2 separate regions of the Homo sapiens genome follow, and region 2 is linked to region 1. Evidence: fine-mapped expression QTL. A gene starts in region 1. The other region holds a variant in brackets. All regions are shown on one strand. Distances are from middle to middle. Region 1 holds the start of ZNF843 (zinc finger protein 843). Region 2 holds the start of ITGAD (integrin subunit alpha D).

What was found.
Region 2: its variant is fine-mapped to the expression of ZNF843 in thyroid (GTEx, PIP 0.93).

The regions. Positions count from the first base shown.
Region 1 is chr16:31,436,691-31,446,344 of GRCh38, forward strand. ZNF843 (zinc finger protein 843) reads right to left here and starts at 6,099. Exons shown (of 2, transcript NM_001136509.3): 1 at 5,946-6,099; 2 at 1-494. The coding sequence starts at 159. RefSeq lists silencers at 1-43, 5,906-6,115 and an enhancer at 5,726-6,521.
Region 2 is chr16:31,384,971-31,394,624 of GRCh38, forward strand. It overlaps ITGAD (integrin subunit alpha D), which reads left to right and starts at 8,365. Exons shown (of 30, transcript NM_005353.3): 1 at 8,365-8,421; 2 at 9,266-9,371. The coding sequence starts at 8,391. The variant C/T (reference allele first, on the strand shown) is at 5,751.

The DNA.
Region 1 (9,654 bases):
CCGCCAGTGCTGGAGGAGGGATGCGCTCTGAGTAAAACCCCTCCCGCAGGCCTTGCACTTGCAGGGCTGACGGCCCTGGGTGAATCTGCCGGTGCTGCAGCAGGTAGGAGCTCTGGCTGAAACGCTTTCCACAGTCAGGGCAAAGGGGAGGCTTCTCATGAGCAGGGCTTCGGAGATGACCGCTCAGGGAGTAACTGTACGGGAGGCTTTGCCGCACTTGGCGCAGCTGTGGGGCCTCTGCCGCACTCAGGCTTCCCGTGGCCACGAGCTCACAGTCTGGGAGCAGCACCCGGCCCCAGGCCTCGGGGGCTGTCTGGAGAGTTCTCTAATGTAAGACGCTGGGCAATGTCATCTGAAGGTGTTTCTTGAGGCTCTCGGGCATGTCCCTGGGTGTTCCCCATCACTAAGTCCATCCTCTTGGATACGCTGGTCCTCACTGCCGTGTCCAGTTCCTGCGGAAGGAAAGATTTCAGATCCCAGAGCCATCATTCTCTCTAGAGGGAGAGAAAACCACAGAAAAATTTTACTACAAACTGCAAAGGAGACTTTGCTTTCAGAATCCTGTAATCAATGCTTCTTTATTACTATTTTACTTTTTCTTTCCTTCTTTTTTTTTTTTTTTTTTTTTTTTAAGACAGGGTCTATTTCTGTTGCCCAGGCTGGAATGCAGTAGTACGATCTCTGATCACTGCAACCTTTGCCTCTCTGGCTCAAGTGATCCTCCCGCTTCAGTCTCTCAAGTAGCTGGGACTGTAGTTGCACACCACTAGGCCCAGCATTTTTTTTTTTTTTTTTGGTAGAAGCTGGTTTTTATCATGTTGCCCAAGCTGCTCTCAAACTCCTGGGCTCAAGCGGTTGGCCCACCTGGGCCACCCAAAGTGCTGGGATTGCAAGCATGAGCTACCATGCCCGGCCTCCTATAATCAATGTTTTTTTTTTTTTTTTTTTGAGAGGGAGTCTTGCTCTGTCACCCAGGCTGGAGTGCAGTGGTGCTAGCTATGTCGGCTCACTGCAACCTCTGCCACCCGGGTTCAAGCGATTCTCCTGCCTCAGCCTCCCGAGTAGCTGGGATTACAGGCGCCTGCCACCATTGCCGGCTAATTTTTTTTTGTATTTTAGTAGAGACAGGATTTCACCATGTTGGTCAGGCTGGTCTCAAACTCCTGACCTCATGATCCACCCACCTTAGCCTCCCAAAGTGCTGGGATTACAGGTGTGAGCCACTGCACATGGCCAATCAATGCTTCTTAATAGTAAGATTTATTTTAAAATTTGGATTGGGGTTATAAGACTTTCAGTAGTCTTGGATATTACCATCTTTATCCTGAATGAAAGTGTAGCAAGAGGCTGGGCGCAGTGGCTCATGCCTATAATCCTAGCACTTTGGGAGGCTGAGGCCAGAGGATCCTTGAGCCCAGGAGACTAACCTGGGCAACAAAGCAAGACCCTGTCTGTATTAAAATTACAAAAGCGTGGTAAGGATCATTTCCTCATTAACCTTGAACATCCAAACACAAACCATCAAAAAGAATCAACTTCAGAAAGACATTATTGCTTTATTGGTTAAGGTGATTAAAAGAAGGGGGCCCCTCAGGCCACAAAGATAATTAACTGATTGTCACAAACCATATTGAAACTCTTTTTTAAAAAGGGTATAGATAACTTTTAATTTACAATTTTAACAATCAAAGTAGCCAAGAGTAGAGTTTGCAATAGGACTAGAAAGTATTCCAGTGGCTCATATATAAGTGGGCTAATTTTATCTATTTTTAGGCCTATTAGGCCTGTCAGTCTGGATTTTCCATTACTTGGAAATGGGGACTGGGGAACAGATGCTTCTGGCCACTCTGAGCCCTGGCTTGATCCTTGGGTCTCATCTCTCTCTCTCTCCCCGTTTGTGCTTCACCTCTCAGCGGATACTTGGCTCTTATCTCAGGACCTGACCTCCCACTGAGCTCCAAGCCTGCAAAGCATGCTGCCACCCAGTTATTTCCCCCTTAACATCCTGCCATCACTTCAAATTTAATACCCCTATGCCAAAAAATCACTGACTCCTAATTTCACTTTTGTTGGTGGCACCAGTTTTATTCTCTTGGACACCTAAGCTCAAAAACAGTGGAACTTCTTTTGACTCATCGCTCTCCTTCCTTCCCTAGAAGTGAGCTACCATTTAAAAGTGATGTGCTCATTCTCAGCAAACTATCCCAAGGACAAAAAAATAAACACCGCATGTTCCCACTCATAGGTGGGAATTGAACAATGAGAACACATGGACACAGGAAGGGGGACATCACACACCGGGGCCTGTTGTGGGGTGGGGGGAGGGGGGAGGGATAGCATTAGCAGATATACCTAATGTAAATGACGAGTTAATGGGTGCAGCACACCAACATGGCACATGTATACATATGTAACAAACCTGCACGTTGTGCACATGTACCCTAGAACTTAAAAGTATAATGATACAAAAAAAGTGATGTGCTATCATCAGTCACCCGAGAAATGCAAATTAAAACCACAAGGAGTGCCCTTATGCACCCACTAAAATCGAGCAGACTGAAGGTGCTAACTGTTGCCTGAGGATATGGAGTCTCACACATTGCTGGGGAAATATAAAATGGCCTGGGCATTTTGGAAACCAGTTTTGGTTAACAGTAAATTAAATGTACACTTACCACATGACTCAATAATTCTACTCTTAGGATTTACTCAAGGAAAATAAAAACATATGTCCACACAAAGACTTTTTCACAAATGTGCATATCAGCTTTATTCATAATAGGCATAAGATAGAAACATCCAAATGTCCATCAATGGGTGGAAGAATAAAGTGTGGTTTACCCATGTAACAGAATACTAGCAACAAAGAGGAACTGCTGTTACCTGCAAGCAATGGATGAATCTCAAAATTATGTTAAACCAGAGAAGCCAGACACAAGAGAATACATACTATATGATTCAATTTCTGTGAAATTCCATTTCTACAAAAAGCAAAACTTACTCATAGGGGCAGAAAGTAGACCAGTGGTTCTCTGGGGCTGGGTCAGGGAGAGAGCAGCTGACTGCACGGGGCATGAGAGGGTGACGGCAAAGTTCTGCACCCTGAATGTGATGATGGTTATGCCCGTGTACACATTCACCAAAAACCAGCAACCTGTACACTTAAAGTGGGTGTGTTTTATATATAACTTATACTTCAGTAAGTGTCAGCACAGATAGGCTAAGCCTCTTCTGAGATGTAACACAGGTAGACAGGAGTATCAGTGCTGACTGGCCAACTATCTTTAAAATATTTTATTAAGCTATAAATAATACGGAGTTGAAATAGCCAGGACTTACAGTGTACTTACTACATGCCAGGTACTATTCTAAGAGTTTCCACATATTGGTTAGACCTCACAACAACTCTCCAAGATACTAACGATTACCCCATTTTATAGATGAAGAAACTGAGGCATAGAAAGTTTAAGTAATTTAGAAAAGCCATATATACGGTAAAAAAATTTTTGGCTCCAGGGAGCTTCCTCTGAACTACTATGCCACAATACTTCTCATTAGGACAATTTTGAAATAGACACACTCCTTCCTCCATAATTTCATCTCCTCTACAAAAAATATTTTCACGTTTGCATATTTTATTCAGGCTTTGCCAACATGCATATGCATTTTAACTACTCCATAATCATAGTTTAGACACAGAGCAAGAGGAAGCCATTCCAAGCAACAGACGAGTCTAATTTTGCTCTCTGAAAAATAAGCATTTTTTTAACTTATGAACATTTCTCATTCATTCACATTCTTTCATAATGATCTATTTTAATGGCTTTGTTTGAAATACCATATTATATTGTATTCATTTCCTTTATTATTGGAATAGATCATTAGTAGAGATAATGCTGTAATGAGCATCTTCATGGAATGCACAGAGCTTATTTTTTTTCCATGTGGAATCTTTTATGTAGGAATCATTCCCAGGAGCGCAGCTGCTGCCCCATATAAGAAAGGGCCTCTGGCCTCGATAAAGCAGCAGCTCTTATACCAGTATGAATGAGCTACTGTCCAATTTGCTAGTGCCTGAGACTGGTCCAGACTCCAGCCCATTCATGGTCTTGAGGGCCCTAGGAAGACCACAGCAATTCCCGCAGCTCTCCTTTGGGAGTCAGGGGGACCTGTTACCGAAATCAGTCCTTGTGCCAATTAAAAGTACCACAGGCTGCCAGAAATTTCCATCTAGTTTTCTACTATCACTCAACATTCTTCCTGTGACTATAACTCCTCTCTTACATTCCCTGTCATCAGCCTTGCCCAGGCTTTCCTAATCTCTTCCCTAGATGAGTGTGTTTTCCAGTTGGCCTTTTGTGATTTGATTCCCCTCTCTTCCAATGGATGATCTGACACAAGGGCTGTCAAGCATGCTTGTTACTGTAGGGCAGTGCTTACTGTTTTCACAGCATGGAACCCACAGAAAATGTTACAATATGAGTAACTCACAGGGATAAAGGGTTGAGATTGCTCCCTACTGAAGGTGCCCGGCCCAGTGCTTCGGGCCACCCTAGGCCCTACCTACCTTCCTCAGGGGTTAAAGCAGTGGTTCTCAGTGCTAGCTGCACATTAGGATTACCTGGGAGCTTTCAAAATTATTTTGCCTGTGCTGCACCCAGGAGTAACAACATACAGCCAAGGTTAAGAACCTTTTTAGCTAAATGGTTATCTGTTTATCCTCAGTTACCGCCACAGCTTATCCTTCTACTACAGTGCCTCCTGAGTAATGGGCACACCGTACAGTATTATTATTGATTATTATTAGTATTAGAGACAGGCTCTCCCTCTATCATCCAGGCTGGAGTGCAGTGGCACCATCATGGCTCACTGCAGCCTCGACCTCCTGGGCTCAAGCGGTCCTCCCTCAGCCTCCTGAGTAGCTGGGATCACAGGTGTGCACCACCACACCTGGCTAATTTTTTTTTTTTAAATAATTAGTGTAGACAGGATCTCATTGTTGCCTACGCTACTCTCCAACTCTTGGGCTCAAGCGATCCTCCCGCCTTGGCTTCCCGAAGTGCTGGGATTACAGACGTGAGCCGCAGCGCCCGGCAGAATACAGAAGTAATAAACTAAGGTCAAGGCCATGTACTGAGGTGTTCAAGGCTCTGAACTGCTGGACTCAATGTCACAAGATAAATTTTAACCTCACCAAACCCTCTCAGCTTAAGAGTATCTGCTAAGTTCTGAGAAAGCAAACGGGGCGTGTGAAAAGATGGGTGTTCATGCCTGTGTGTATGTGGGGTCGGTGATGCAGTTAAGGACAGAACCCAGGGGAGGACTCCGGGACGGGGGAGGCGGCTGAGATTTTAAGGCGGGCCGGGTGTGCTGCAGCCAGCACTGCCGGAGAATCGCTGGGAAACGGCTCCAGCAGGAGAATGGAGGGTGGACGGCCGGCCGCAAAGGCGGTGGAGGTGTTGGCCCGCCCCTTCCCTCCTGATAACACCGACGTGCGTGTGGGGTCCACGGAACGCCCCACCAAGCCTCGCCTGGCGCGGGGTCGAGGGGCTCGGCGGAGGCGCGTGTTCAGGTGGAGGCGGTGGGCCCGGGCTGCGGCCCTTCGCTCGATTTTATTTATTTATTTATTTATTTATTTATTTATTTTTGAGACGGAGTCTCGCTGTGTTCCCCAGGCTGGAGTGCAGTGGCGAGATCTCGGCTCATTGCAACCCCTGCCTCCCGGGTTCAAGCGATTCTCCTGCCTCAGCCTCCCGAGTAGCTGGGACCACAGGCGTCCGCCACCACGCCCGGCTAATTTTTGCATTTTTAGTAGAGAAGGGATTTCACTATATTGGCCACGCTGGTCTCGAACTCCTGACCTCGTGATCCGCCCGCCTCGGCCTCCCAAAGTGCTGGGATTACGGGCGTGAGCCACCGCGCCCGGCCCCTTCGCTCGCTCTTACCCGGTGAGGTCCCGTGCCCGCGTACCTCCCGCATGACACTTGGGCGTGCGGCCGAGCCGGGAGCGCCCCTGCCCCGCGAGCCGCCCCCGAGAGACACGGCGGATCGGAACCCAGCCGGGCGCGTAGCTCCGGGAAGGGGACGTGGCGAGGACCCGGCAGCCGCGGGGCCTGTGGGGAAACATGGTCCCCGCAAGGGACCCTGGGAGCTGGAGGCGTCCTGGCCCGGCGTCCGGAGCCCACGGCCCAGGACTAGGATGCCGGGGGTCTCGGGCGTCCTCCCTAACCTCAGTCATAGGGCGCTCCGTATCCAGCCCGCCCTGCTTGCCTCTCGCTTCCCCCAAATACTGCCCCGACCTGTCCCCTGGCCCTCACCAAGACAGGGAGAAACGACCGAGACACTGAGGACTCCGCTAACAGCTGCCTGAGACCCAACCCCTCCACTCCCTGACCAGGATGAGGGAGTCCGCGCCATGCGCATGCACACACGCGGGCCTCTCCTCCTCCCACCTTTTGCGCGTCTCGCCCGGGCATCGAAGGAAGGGAATGACGGCGCGACGGCGACCCCTAGGGGCGGGAGGAGGCGCTAGGAGCGGGGCTGGGAAGCGCCATGGTGCAGGTTGAACGGGGACATTGGGTCACCGGGATGGGTGGAATTAGGGTAGGGCGAGTGAGGCACTGGCTTCTGGCACAGAATTTAAGGAGACACCCCAAAATTTAGTAATCAGGATACACAGACTGAGCGCAGTGGCTCACGCCTGTAATCCCAACACTTTGGGAGGCCAAGGCGGGAGGACTGCTTGAGGCCAGGAGTTAGGGATCAGCCTGGGCAACAAAGCGAGACCCCCATCTCTACAAAAAAAAATTAAAATTTAGCCGGACTTGGTGGTGGGCGCCTGTGGTCCCAGCTACTCAGGATGCTTAAGTGGGAGGATCACTTGAGCCCAGGAGGTTGAAGGTGCAGTGAGCTATGGTGACACCTCTGCACTCCAGCCTGGGCAACAGAGCAAGACCATGTCTCTTAAAAAAAAAAAAAAAAAAAAAAAAAGCTAGACGCGGTGGCTCACGCCTGTAATCCCAGCACTTTGGGAGGGCAAGGGTAGTGGATCAGTTGAGGTCAGGAGTTCGAGACCAGCCTGGCCAACATGGTGAAACTAAAAATACAAAAATTATTCTACTAAAAATACAAAAATTAGCCGGGTATGGTGGTGCACACCTGTAATCCCAGCTACTTAGGAGACTGAGGCAGGAGAATCGCTTGAACCCAGGAGGCAGAGGTTGCAGTGTTGCAGAGGTTGCAGATCATGCCACTGCACTCCAGCCTGGGTGAAAGAGTGAAACCCTGTCTCAAAACAACAACAACAACAACAACAACAACAACAACAACAACAACCACCACCACCCAAAGTATATTATATGCACACCCTACTGAGTTTGATTCCTGGTTCCACCAGTTAATAGCTGTGGGAGTTTGGGCAGTTTGGTGAATCTAATCTCTGTATCTCAATTTCTTCATCTGTAACATGGCAATAATAACAGCACCTACTTACCTCATAAGGTTGCTGGGAAGATTCAAGGAGATAAGCCAAGTGAAGAGCTTAGCACAATGTCTGGCACATGGTGAGTGTTCAGTGAATGTTAGTCAGTTGGTGGCTATGGCAGCCATCTGCTGAGATAGTTCCCAGTGATCCTACTCCTGGTGTTCACACCCTTTTTAGTCCCTTCCCACAATGCACCAGGGTTGGTCTATGTGACCTGTGGAATACTATAGGAGTTTCTTTCTTTCTCTCTTTCTCTCATTCTCTTTCTTTCTTTCCTCTCTCTTTCTTTCTTTTTTTGACAGAGTCTTGCTCTATCACCCAGGCTGGAGTGCAGTGGCACGATCTCGGCTCACTGCAACCTCTGCCTCCTGGGTTCAAGTGATTCTCGTGCCTCAGCCTCCCAAGTAGCTGGGATTACACACACGGCCACCACACCTGGCTAAATTTTGTATTTTTAATAGAGATGGGGTTTTGCCATGTTGGCCAGGCTGGTCTCGAACTCCTGACCTTAGGTGATCCACCCACCTCAGCCTCCCAAAGTGCTGGGATTACATGCATGAGCCACCGTACCTGGCAAGAATTACTTATAATTAGGTTATAAAAGTCATGACAGTGAAAACCTCCCAACTTATTCTGAGGCCAGTATTACCCTACTATCAAAATCAGACAAAGACATCACAAGAAAACTAGAGACTAATATCTCTTATGAATATAGACATAAAAATCCTCAAGAAAATACCGGCAAATAAAATTCAGAAATATATAAAAAGGATAACCAGGTGGGATTTATCCCAGGAATGTACGGTTAGCTTAACTTATGAAAATAAATTAATACACTACATCAATACAATAAAGGAAAACATTATTATTTCAATTGGTGTAAAAACAGCATTTGACAAAATTCAGCACCCTTCATCATAAAAATACTCAGCAAACTAGGAATAGAAGGAAACTCAATTAACGTGATAAAGGGCATCTATGAAAAAACCCACTGCCAACATCATACTCAATGGTGAGAGAATAAAAGCTTTTCCTCTAAGATCAGAAACAAGAAAGGGATGCCCACTTTTGCCACATCTATTCAGCCTTGTACTGGAAGCTCTCACCAGTTCTTGCCTGGAAGCTCTTGCCATGAGGCAAGGAAAAATAAAAAGCAAGCAAATCAGAAAGGAAGAAGTAAAACTATCTCCATTTATAGATGAGGTGATTTTATAGAAAATCCTAAAGAATCTATGAAAAAAACTTTGTTAGAGCTAATAAACAAATTCTGCAAAGCTGTAACAACAAAATCAATACACAGAAGTCAGTTGTGTTTCTATACTCTTGATATATTCTATATTCTGGTGTAGTCTATTTTCTGCTGCTATAACCATGCCACAGATTGGGTAATTTATAAAGAAAGGAGATTTATTTGGCTCACAGTTCTGCAGTCTTAGAGGTCCAACAGCATGGCACCAGCATCAAGGGTCATCCATGGCAGAAGGTGAAAGTGCTTTGTATTAGTCTGTTTTCACACTGCTGTAAGGAACTACCTGAGACTGGGTAATTTATTTAAAAAAAAAAAAAAGAAAGAAAAAAAAAAAGAGGCCAGGCGCAGTGGCTCACGCCTGTAGTCCCAGCACTTTGGGAGGCAAGGTGGGCAGATCACTTGAGGTACGGAGTTTGAGACCAGCCTGGCCAACGGTAAAACCCTGTCTCTACAAAAAATTTAGCTGGCTATGGTGGCAGGCACCTGTAATCCCAGCTATTCAGGAGGCTGAGGCAGGATAATTGTTTGAACCTGGGAGGCAGAGGTTGCAGTGAGCTGAGACAGCGCCACTGCACTCCAGCTTCGGTGACAGATTGAAACTCGGTCTCAAAAAAAAAAAAAAAAAGTTTAATTGACTCACATGGCTGGGGAGGCCTCAGGAAACTTACAATAATGGCAGAAGGTGAAGGGGAAGCAAGGCACATCTTACATGGCAGCAGAAGAGAAAGGGAGAGCAAAGAGGAAGAGCCACACACTTATCAAACAACCAGATCTCCTGAGAATTCGATCACGAGAATAGCAAGGGGGAAGTCCGCCCCCATGATTCAGTCACCTCCCACCAGGCCATTCCCCCAACATGTGGGGATTACAATTTGAGACAAGATTTGGGTGGGGACACAGAGCCAAACCATATCAGGCATGC
Region 2 (9,654 bases), 52 kb before region 1:
TAAATATTGAGCCCAGTGCACGTATAGTATAGACATGCATACCGGAATAAGTGATTGTGAGCCAAAACCCGAAAATATCTAGAAGGTATTATACTCCCTGACAGGTAGGTTGTATTGGTTCTGACATGTATTTGTCCCTAGTGTGCTGCCCATTCTGAAACTTTATCAAACAGTCGCATGAACCTCTGAAAGCTTTTGTGTTATTTTCTTATTTATTTATTTATTGAGATGGAGTCTTGCTCTGTCGCCCAGGCTGGAGTGCAGTGGCATCATCTTGGCTCACTGCAACCTTTGCCTCCTGGGTTCAAGTGATTCTCCTGCCTCAGCCTCTTGAGTAGCTGGGATTACAGGCGCGCACCACCACGCCCAGCTAATTTTTGTATTTTTAGTATAGACGGGGGTTTCACCATGTTGGTCAGGCTGGTCTCGAACCCCTGACCTCATGATCTGCCTGCCTCAGGTAAAGCAATAGAGATTTCTTAGAACAACTGCTACATGTAGCTTTCCTATTCAAAAGTGATTAGTGTTGTCACCGAATACAGAGGAGACAGCAAAACCACAGTGACATAAATCAAAGGTGCTTTTTAAAGTAGCAAAAGTAGGTACAAGTCACATAATTTCCAAGAAGCTTGTAGAAATGGCAGTAGAGTTCATACCTGTATTGAAAGGTTGCTTTTGGCTGCAAATAATAGAAAAAAACAAAAGCATGTAAGAGCAGACAGAAGACCTTTACTCTGCAAGAGGTTCAGGTGCAGGTTAGTGTTTAATGCAGAGTCTCAGCATTGACAGATTCTTTCTGATCTTCCAATTGATCGTCCTTGCGGGGGCGGTTTAGTTCTTTCCCACTGACTAGGATTGGGTCAAATTCCATCCCCTTGGTTGCATGCAGTGCTGAGAAGGTGAGCATGTGCTTTTCACAGGCTTAATAAAAAGAGGTAGCTCCAGCCAGGTGCAGTGACTCATGCCTATAATCTCAGCACTTTGGGAGGCAGAGGTGGGTAGGTCACCTGAGGTCAGGAGATTGAGACCAGCCTGACCAACATGGCAAAACTCTGTCTCTACCGAAAATACAAAAATTAGCTGGGCATGGTGGCAGGTGCCTGTAATCCCAGCTACTTGGGAGGCTGAGGCAGGAGAATCGCTTGAACCTGAGAGGTGGAAGTTACAGTGAGCTGAGGTCATGCCACTGCACTCCAGCCTGGGGGACAGAGTAGAACTCTGTCTCAACAAAAAAAAAAAAAAAAAGAGAAAAAAAAAGGAGGGTAGCTCCACCAGCCAGGAAGGTGGCAGCGCTGGTGGCTGTTGGATAGGCTACCTACAGTGTCTGGCAAATACTATGCTTGAAGACTATGCTGTGAGCAAGATTCCTTTGTGAAGGAACAGCTTGGACATTGTGTATGTCAGAGGTATACAGCAGAATAGCAGTGACTAACGCTTGTGTGGGAGAGCAAGCATGTCACCTCATACTTGGAATAAGTCACTGCCATACAAAGTCTGAATCAGCTTTCATCTTTGTGCAACACATGTATGTGGGAGCTTTTCAGCTGCTGAAACCTCTAGTGACAGAAAAGGAGGTTTTGTTGTTCATTTGTAATTAATGTTAATCCTATGAGTGGTGGGAGAGATAGTGAGGTAGGAGATCAGCAGGACCTGTTTTCTGGTCACAACCCAGCTAATCAGAGCATGATCTGGTCAAGATGGGATGCACTAAAAAAACAGCCCAAACCAGCAGATGGCCAGGAAAGCAAACTCTCATTACCCTCGCCACTTATTAGCATAAAGACACTCCCACCGGTGCCATGACAGTTTACAAATGCCATGGAAACACACCATAGCAACGGTCAGCAAGTTACCTCATATGGTTCTGGAAACTCCCCACACCTTTTCCAGATAGTTCTGAATAACCCACCCCTTAATTTGCATGTAATTAAAAGTCGGTATAAGTACAGTTAGCCAGCAGCCCACTGGCTGCTACTGTGGGCTCACTGCCTATGGGTTGTCCTGCTCTGCAAGGAACAGCTACCTTGCTGCCACTGCTGCTTCAATAAACCTGCTTTCTTCCACCACAGGCTCGCTCTTCAGTTCTTTCCTGAGCAAAGTTAAGAACCCTCCCGGGCTAAGCCCCAATTTTGGAGCTTGCCTGCCCTGCATCAGTAGAATGGGCTAACTACTTATGGTGCACTCAGGCTAAAGAGGCTGATGCTTGCAGGGCAGTATTCACAGAGCACACGGTAGTTCACGGGATGCCTCTCACCCTTGACTCAGTGCTTAAGAAAGGAGGGAAAATGGTGAACATGATCAAATCATGGCCATTGCCTATTCATCTTTTCAGTGTTGTATGGAGGAATAGGCAAGTAGGAGATTGCTTTTCACATTAATGTCAAAGAGAAAGATAGTTACTTGGAACTTAAAAAAATTAATTGTGATAAAATATACATAACATAAAATTTACCATCTTAACCATTTTTAAGTATAGCCAATCTCAAGAGCTCTTTCTATCTTGTAAAACTGAAACCCTATACCCATTAAACAACTCCCAATTCTCCCCTTTCCCTAACTCCTGGCAACCACAATTCTTTCTGTCTCTATGAATTTGACTGCTTTGGCATGTCATAGAAATAGACTCATACAGCATTTGTCTTTTTGCGACTGGCATATTTTGCTTAGCATAATGTCCTCAAGGTTCACCCATGTGGTAGCATGTGTCAGAATTCCTCTCCTTTTGAAGGCTGAATAATATTCCATTGTGTGTATATACCACGTTTTGTTTATCCATTTGCCCATCAATGGGCATTTGGGTTGCTTTTTTTGCCTCTCATGAATGATGAATATGGGCGCACAAATATCTCTTCAAGACCATGCTTTCAATTCTCTTGGGTATACACCCAGAAGTGGAATTGCTGAATCATATGGTAATTTTTTTTTTTTTTTGAGACAGAATCTTGCTCTGTTGCCCAGGCTGGAGTGCAGTGGCACAATCAGAGCTCACTGCAGCCTTGGTCTTCTGGGCTCAAGCGATCCTCTTGCTTCAGCCTTCCGAGCTTCTGGGACTAAAGGTGTGTGCCATCATGCCTGGCTAATGTTTTAAAAACGTTGCCAGGCATGGTGGCTCGTGCTTGTAATCCTAGCACTTTGGGAAGCTGAGGCAGGTGGATCCCCTGAGGTCAGGAGTTTGAGACCAGCCTTGCCAACATGGTGAAATCCCGCCTGTACTAAAAATACAAAAATTAGCTGGGTGTGGTGGCATGTGCCTGTAGTTCCAGCTACAGGCAGGAGAATTGCTGGAACCTGGGTGGCAGAGGCTGCAGTGAGCCGAGATTGCACCACTGCACTCCAGCCTGAGTGACAGAGTGAGACTCTGTCTCAAAAAAAAAAAAAATTTTAGAGATGGTGTCTCACTGTGTTGCCCAGGCTGGTCTTGAACTCCTGCCCTAAAGTGATCCTCCTGCTTCCGCCTCCCAAAGTGCTGGGATTACAGGCATTAGCCACCATGCCTGGCCTAGCTAAATTGTCTTTAATGTCGCATGTCTGCAAAAAACACATCTATAAAGCTAGAAAAGTTGAGCATCCAACTTTTTATGATTTAACTCTCATGACCTGGCAATTTTTCTAGCAAGGAGCCTGGGCTGGTGGTTTTAGGAGAACTGAGTGAAAAAAAGAAATACATTAACTAGATTGGATGCAAAGTGCCTGCTGGTCATGGGTGTTTTCTGCTGGCCCCTGTTCATCTGTGCCTGTTAGCCCACCCATGGGTGAGTGGGGCAAAGTGGCCAAACTGATTCTTAAGAGAGGCATACATGCAGAATCCAAGTTAGTCATGATTTCGTTTCTAGTCTGAGTGAATGTGTGTCCAGAATATTTTATAAACTTTATCAGCTCAGAGGGGAAAACCTGTCTCCATACTACGTGGTTTATACAAAGCTGTCAGGAATTCAGCATGATGAAGAAATGCACAAAACAAGTGTGAACAGATAAGTAAAAGGATCTACTGAAAATCTTCAGGGTAGTATATTGTGTGACAGGACCAAGAATTTGAAGTCAACATCTGTATTTGTGCCCTCTGGACAAAGGTATTATCCCTGATGATATAAAAATTAATTTTGGGCTGGGTGTGGTGGCTCATGCCTGTAATCCCAGCACTTTGGGAGGCTGAGGAGGGTGAATCGACTGACGTCAGGAGTTGGAGGCCAGCCTGTATCGACTAATAATACAAAAAAATTAGCTGGACATGGTGGCGTGCACCTGTAATCCCAGCTACTCAGGAGGCTGAGGTGGGAGAATTGCTTGAACTCGGGAGGCCGAGGTTGCAGTGAGTCGCACCACTGCACTCTAGCCTGGGCGACAGAGTGAGACTCCGTCTCAAAAAAAACAAAATTAATTTCGAGGCCAGGTGCAGTGGCTCCAGGTGCGGTGGTTCATACCTGTAATTCCAGTGCTTTAGGAGGCCAGAGGATTGCTTGAACCCAAGAGTTCGAGATCAACCTGGGCAACATAGTGAGACTCCATCTGTAGAAAACAAACAAACAAACAAACAACAACAACAAAAAAACCAGAGGTGGGAGGATCACTTGAGCCCAGGAGTCCGAGGCTGCAGTGAGCTATGGTCACGCCACTGCCCTCTAGCTTGGGCAACAGTGCCAGACTCTGTCTCTTAACAACAACAACAACAAAAATTAATTCTACTTTAACTGTCAGTTTCATGATATCCTTCTATTAAGAAAAACCTTTTCTATCTGATGAACTATTGGCTAGGTTTTCTTTCTCTCTGCTTTTGACTAATGCATTTAATTACTTTCATTTGCAAACTCTATCCTTCTCATCAACTTTGTATTTTAGATGTGTCTATTGACAGCCTGGCTTCCCTCAGCGATCATTATGATGATCAAAGTAGATGAATAGGTAAAATTCAATGCAAATATTCCAGGGCATCTAATCCATACCCCAAATGGAAAAGGGGAGAATTGGAAGCCAGCAATTTGAACACATTACTATGGATGTATTTTTCTCATGCGGGGGAAAAAGTGATTTGGAGAGAGAGAATTATGAATGCATGTGAAGAATAAAGCCAAATTTCCTGGGAGGAGGGGAAGACCAGGAGAAACAAAACCAAATCCTGGCTGTGGCCTCTAAGGCATGGGGACCTGGAGTTATGCTCTCCAGGCAGACACAGCTCATTCTGGAGAAAGGCTGCAAAAATATTCTCCTTCACATTGATTTGAAAACAATTATTAAATTCTTGTTTTCTTATTTATCTAAGTGTAACTTTTTAAAACTTACTGAGAGAAGACGGGCACGGTGGCTCACTGCTGTAATCCAGTACTTTGGGAAGTCAAGGCAGGTGGATCACCTATGGTCAGGAGTTCGAGACCAGCCTGGCCAATATGGCAAAACCCCGTCTCTACTAAAAATACAAAAATTAGTCAGGTGTGGTGGTGTGTGCCTGTAATCCCAGCTACTCGGGAGGCTCAGACAGGAGAATCACTTGAACCTGGGAGGCAGAGGTTGCAATGAGCTGAGATTGCACCACTGCACTCCAGCCTGGGCGACAGAGCAGGACTCCATCTCAAAATAAAAATTAATTGATTAATTAATTAAAAATTTACTGAGAGCTGGTGGTTCCTTTAAGGGTGGAGCCGCCATCAAGTCCCCAGAGGATGCCCTGAATTTGGGGGCATCACCTTCAGCTGCTGTGGACTCTGAGCCTTGGCAGCTCCAGCTCCAGGCCTGGGAGAAAGATGATTTCCTGGCAG[C/T]GTGCAGTGATTGTGAGCATTTGACTACCTTACTGCATTTTGCCCTTATCATTGCTCTCCAAACATGAGTGGAAAACAAAAAATTTTGCTGAGACAAGCGATAATACGAGTTAGGGAAAGTTGGAGAATTTTATAGTTGCTGATATCAGCAAATCGTGAGTTTCAAGCACTACTTACAGAAGGAAGTCCAAAATTAAAGGGGATATAGAAATGTGTAAAAGATGAGGTGTGGTGAAGATGGAGAAAATGAAGAGCTCTTTAAATTTCTGAATTATGAAGAATCACCAACAAATTATTTTGTGGTTCCAAATACAGGGAGAAGTTCACAGATCCACAGAACTGATGACAGGGTGCGGCCAGCCACAAACCTTTCAGCACAAGAGGGAGAAGGCTGCCGCTCCACTTTGCCTGGGCAGTCTTTGTAAGGCAGTAGATAAGTCAGCCTCGAAGTTAGCAATCACAGCCCTCGGCTCGGTTTCCTGCAAGGGCATCGTTAATGCATCACAATTAATTTCTTCTGTCCATTAAATGTCAGCTCTCAAGTAAATTGATGTAAAATTTTTGTATAGAAAACTATTTCATATTATTTGCACTTGATGTTTAATTACATTTTAAATGTTTTGTTTGTTTCATTTTGTTTTGTTTTTGAGACAGAGTCTTGCTCTGTTGCCCACGCTGGAATGCAGTGGTGTGATCTTGACTCACTGCAACCTCTGCCTCCTGGGTTTAAGCGATTCTCCTGCCTCAGCTTCCTGAGTAGCTGGGATTACAGGCGTGCACCACCATGCCTGGCTAATCTTTGTATTTTTAGTAGAGATGGGGTTTCACCATGTTGGCCAGGCTGGTCCCGAACTCCTGACCTCAAGCTATACACCTGCCTCAGCCTCCCAAAGTGCTGGAATTACAGACATAAGCCACTGTGCCCAGCCAAATGTTTTAAATAATTGTCACATATATATACAAAATAATTTATGTTATAGGTAGGGATCTTGTTATATTTTAACCTTCAAAGTATATTCCTAAGCTTTTTATTTATTTTTTATTTTTTATTTATTGAGACAGTCTTGCTCTGTCGCCCAGGCTGGAGTGCAGTGGCGCAATCTTGACTCACTGCAAACTCTACCTCCTGGGTTCAAGCGATTCTCCTGCCTCAGCCTCCTGAGTAGCTGGGATTACAGGTGCGCACCACCATGCCCAGCTAATTTTTGTATTTTTAGTAGAGACGGGGTTTCACCATATTGGCCAGAGCTGGTCTCAAACTCCTGACCTCAGGTGATCCATCCACCTCAGCCTCTCAAAGTGCTGGGATTATAGGTGTGAGCCACTGCGCCTGGCCTATTCCTAGCCTTTTATATATAGACCTTTTTCTTTTTCACATTTTAAAGGAACTTTTATGTTTAATCATGGAATATTTCAAACATACAGAAAAATCACAGAAAATAAATAACAACCACTCATTTATCTTCTCCCCAACCCCATGTAATAAATATTAAAATATTGTGTTAAATGCTAAATTTAACACATGCTAAAGGTTCCTGGCTGGATGTGGTGGCTCACGCCTGTAATCCCAGTACTTTGGGAGGAGGAGGTGGGAGGATTGCTTGAGTCCAGGAGCTCGAGACCAGCATGGGCAACATAGTGCGATCTCGTCTCTACAAAAAACAAAAAAATTAGCTGGGCATGGTGGTGTGCATCAGTAATCCCAGTGACTGGGAGGCTGAGGTGGGAGAATTGCTTGAGTCTGGGAATTTGAGGCTGCAGTGAGCCCTGATCATGCCACTGCATTCCAGCATGGGCGACATAGCAAAACTTGTCAAAAAAAAAAAAAGTTTCCTCTCTGCCCCACCATAGACAACCACTCTTCTGATTTCTATCTTCGTAGATGAATTTTGCCCATTCTCTTGTATATGAAAGGAACCAGACATTAGGCATTCTGGTGTCTGGTTTCTTTCACTTAAGATAAAATTGAGTTAACCTGTATTGTTGTACAGAACTGCAGTTTGTTCTTTGTTATTTATTGTAAAGACAGGGTCTGGCTATGTTGCCTAGGCTGGTCTCGAACTGTTGGCCTCAAGCAATCCACCTGCCAAGCTCTGGGACCACAGGCATGAGCCATGGCATCTGATCTGTAGTTTGATCTTATTTCTTGCTGAGTAGTAGCCCATGGCATGACTTTATTATTTTGGGTGTCCATTCTCCTCTGGAGGGGCTCTGCTTTTTGAAACCACACCCTGGCCTAGCTCCCCTTCTCCCTGCCTCTCTGCCGGCTCACATCCACATGCCAAGACCTCTGCAGCCATTCTGCTTCCTGTCCTTCCACTCCTGTGGGACCTCAGAGAGCTACGGGGCTCCCTGGGTACCAACTGGCTCCTGAGGCCTGGGGGAGGGTGGTCTTCTGGGAGAAGGAAGCCAGGTCCCTGCAGGTTGTGGAGGGGGACAGAATGAGGGTTTTTCCCCAGGGTGTTGTTGGCCCCTGCCCCCACTTCTGTTCCATAATTAACCACGCCCCTCCTACCCACTGTGCCCCTCTTCCTGCTGTGTGGAGGCCCTGAATCATTATTTTAACTACCCCCTGGGAGGGTGAGCACCTTCTGTGCTCTGTCCCCAACCTTCCACTTCCCCTCAACGCGCTGCTCAGGGATGACCTTCGGCACTGTGCTTCTTCTGAGTGGTAAGTGGGGCCAGGGTGCTGGGGAGAAGCTTGGAGGAGTTCTGAGGGGACTCCATCTGGGAGGGCAGGCTGGGGGCTGGTGGTCGGCTCCAACCACTCTTATGAGGAGCTGAGGCAGGGGAGTGCTTCATGTGCGAGTGGCCCGGAGTCAGTAGAGTGTGACCTGAATGAAGAGGGGCTCAGGGGCTGTGCTCAGGTGGCGACTAAGCTACCTCTCCAGCTGGCTATGTTGTCCCAGGCTTCCCTGCTCCCACTCATGGAGTCCCTGGTGTGGGTGACAGAGGTCTCCCCAGCCTCCCCCGGGAGTGGAAGGCCACAGAAGCCACCAGGGAGGGGGAAAGGTTGGACATCACCTCCCTGGGCCTGTTTCCCCCAAGTCCTGACTGCACGTAGGGAAGAGGCCCCCTGCTGAAAACTGCATCAGAGTCACATTCACGTGCCATCAAAAATCAGGCTTGGCTGGGTGCGGTGGCTCATGCTTATAATCCCAGCACTTTGGGAGGCCGAGATGGGCGTATCCCCTGAGGTCAGGAGTTTGTGACCAGCCTGGCCAACATGGTGAAACCCCATCTTTACCAAAAATATAAAAATTAGCCGGGCATGGTGGCGTGCACTTGTAATCCCAGCTACTTGGGAAGCTGAGGCAAGAGAATCGCTTGAACCCAGGAGACGGAAGTTGCAGTGAGCTGAGATCGTGCCGTTGCACTCCAGCCTCAGCAACAGAGCGAGACTCCATCTCAAAAAAAAAAAAAAAAAAAAGAAAAAAAAGAAAAAGAGGCTGGGAGGTCCTAGGGATTGGGGCTTCTTTAACTCCCAGCCTCCCCGCCCACCAAATATTCCTCAGTCCTGGCTTCTTATCATGGATTCAACCTGGATGTGGAGGAGCCTACGATCTTCCAGGAGGATGCAGGCGGCTTTGGGCAGAGCGTGGTGCAGTTCGGTGGATCTCGGTAGGCCCCACTCACCCTCCTTCCCCAACCTCCACTACATCAAGTCCTGTGGATGGGTACACGTGGGTTACCCCAGGGAGGTGTCCTGGAGGAAGGCCAGCAGGGGTGAGAAGTCTTCCCTTGGCTCCTTGGAGGCCCTGACATCAGCACCTATTATTCTCAATCCCAGGAAAGGCCACAAAACTCTAGACAAGACCCTACCTTACCTCGGGAGGGAAGCCTTGAACCTGCCTCCCAGGCAGGGCCCACTTCTTGGGGCCAGTATGGTCACACAGGGCCCACA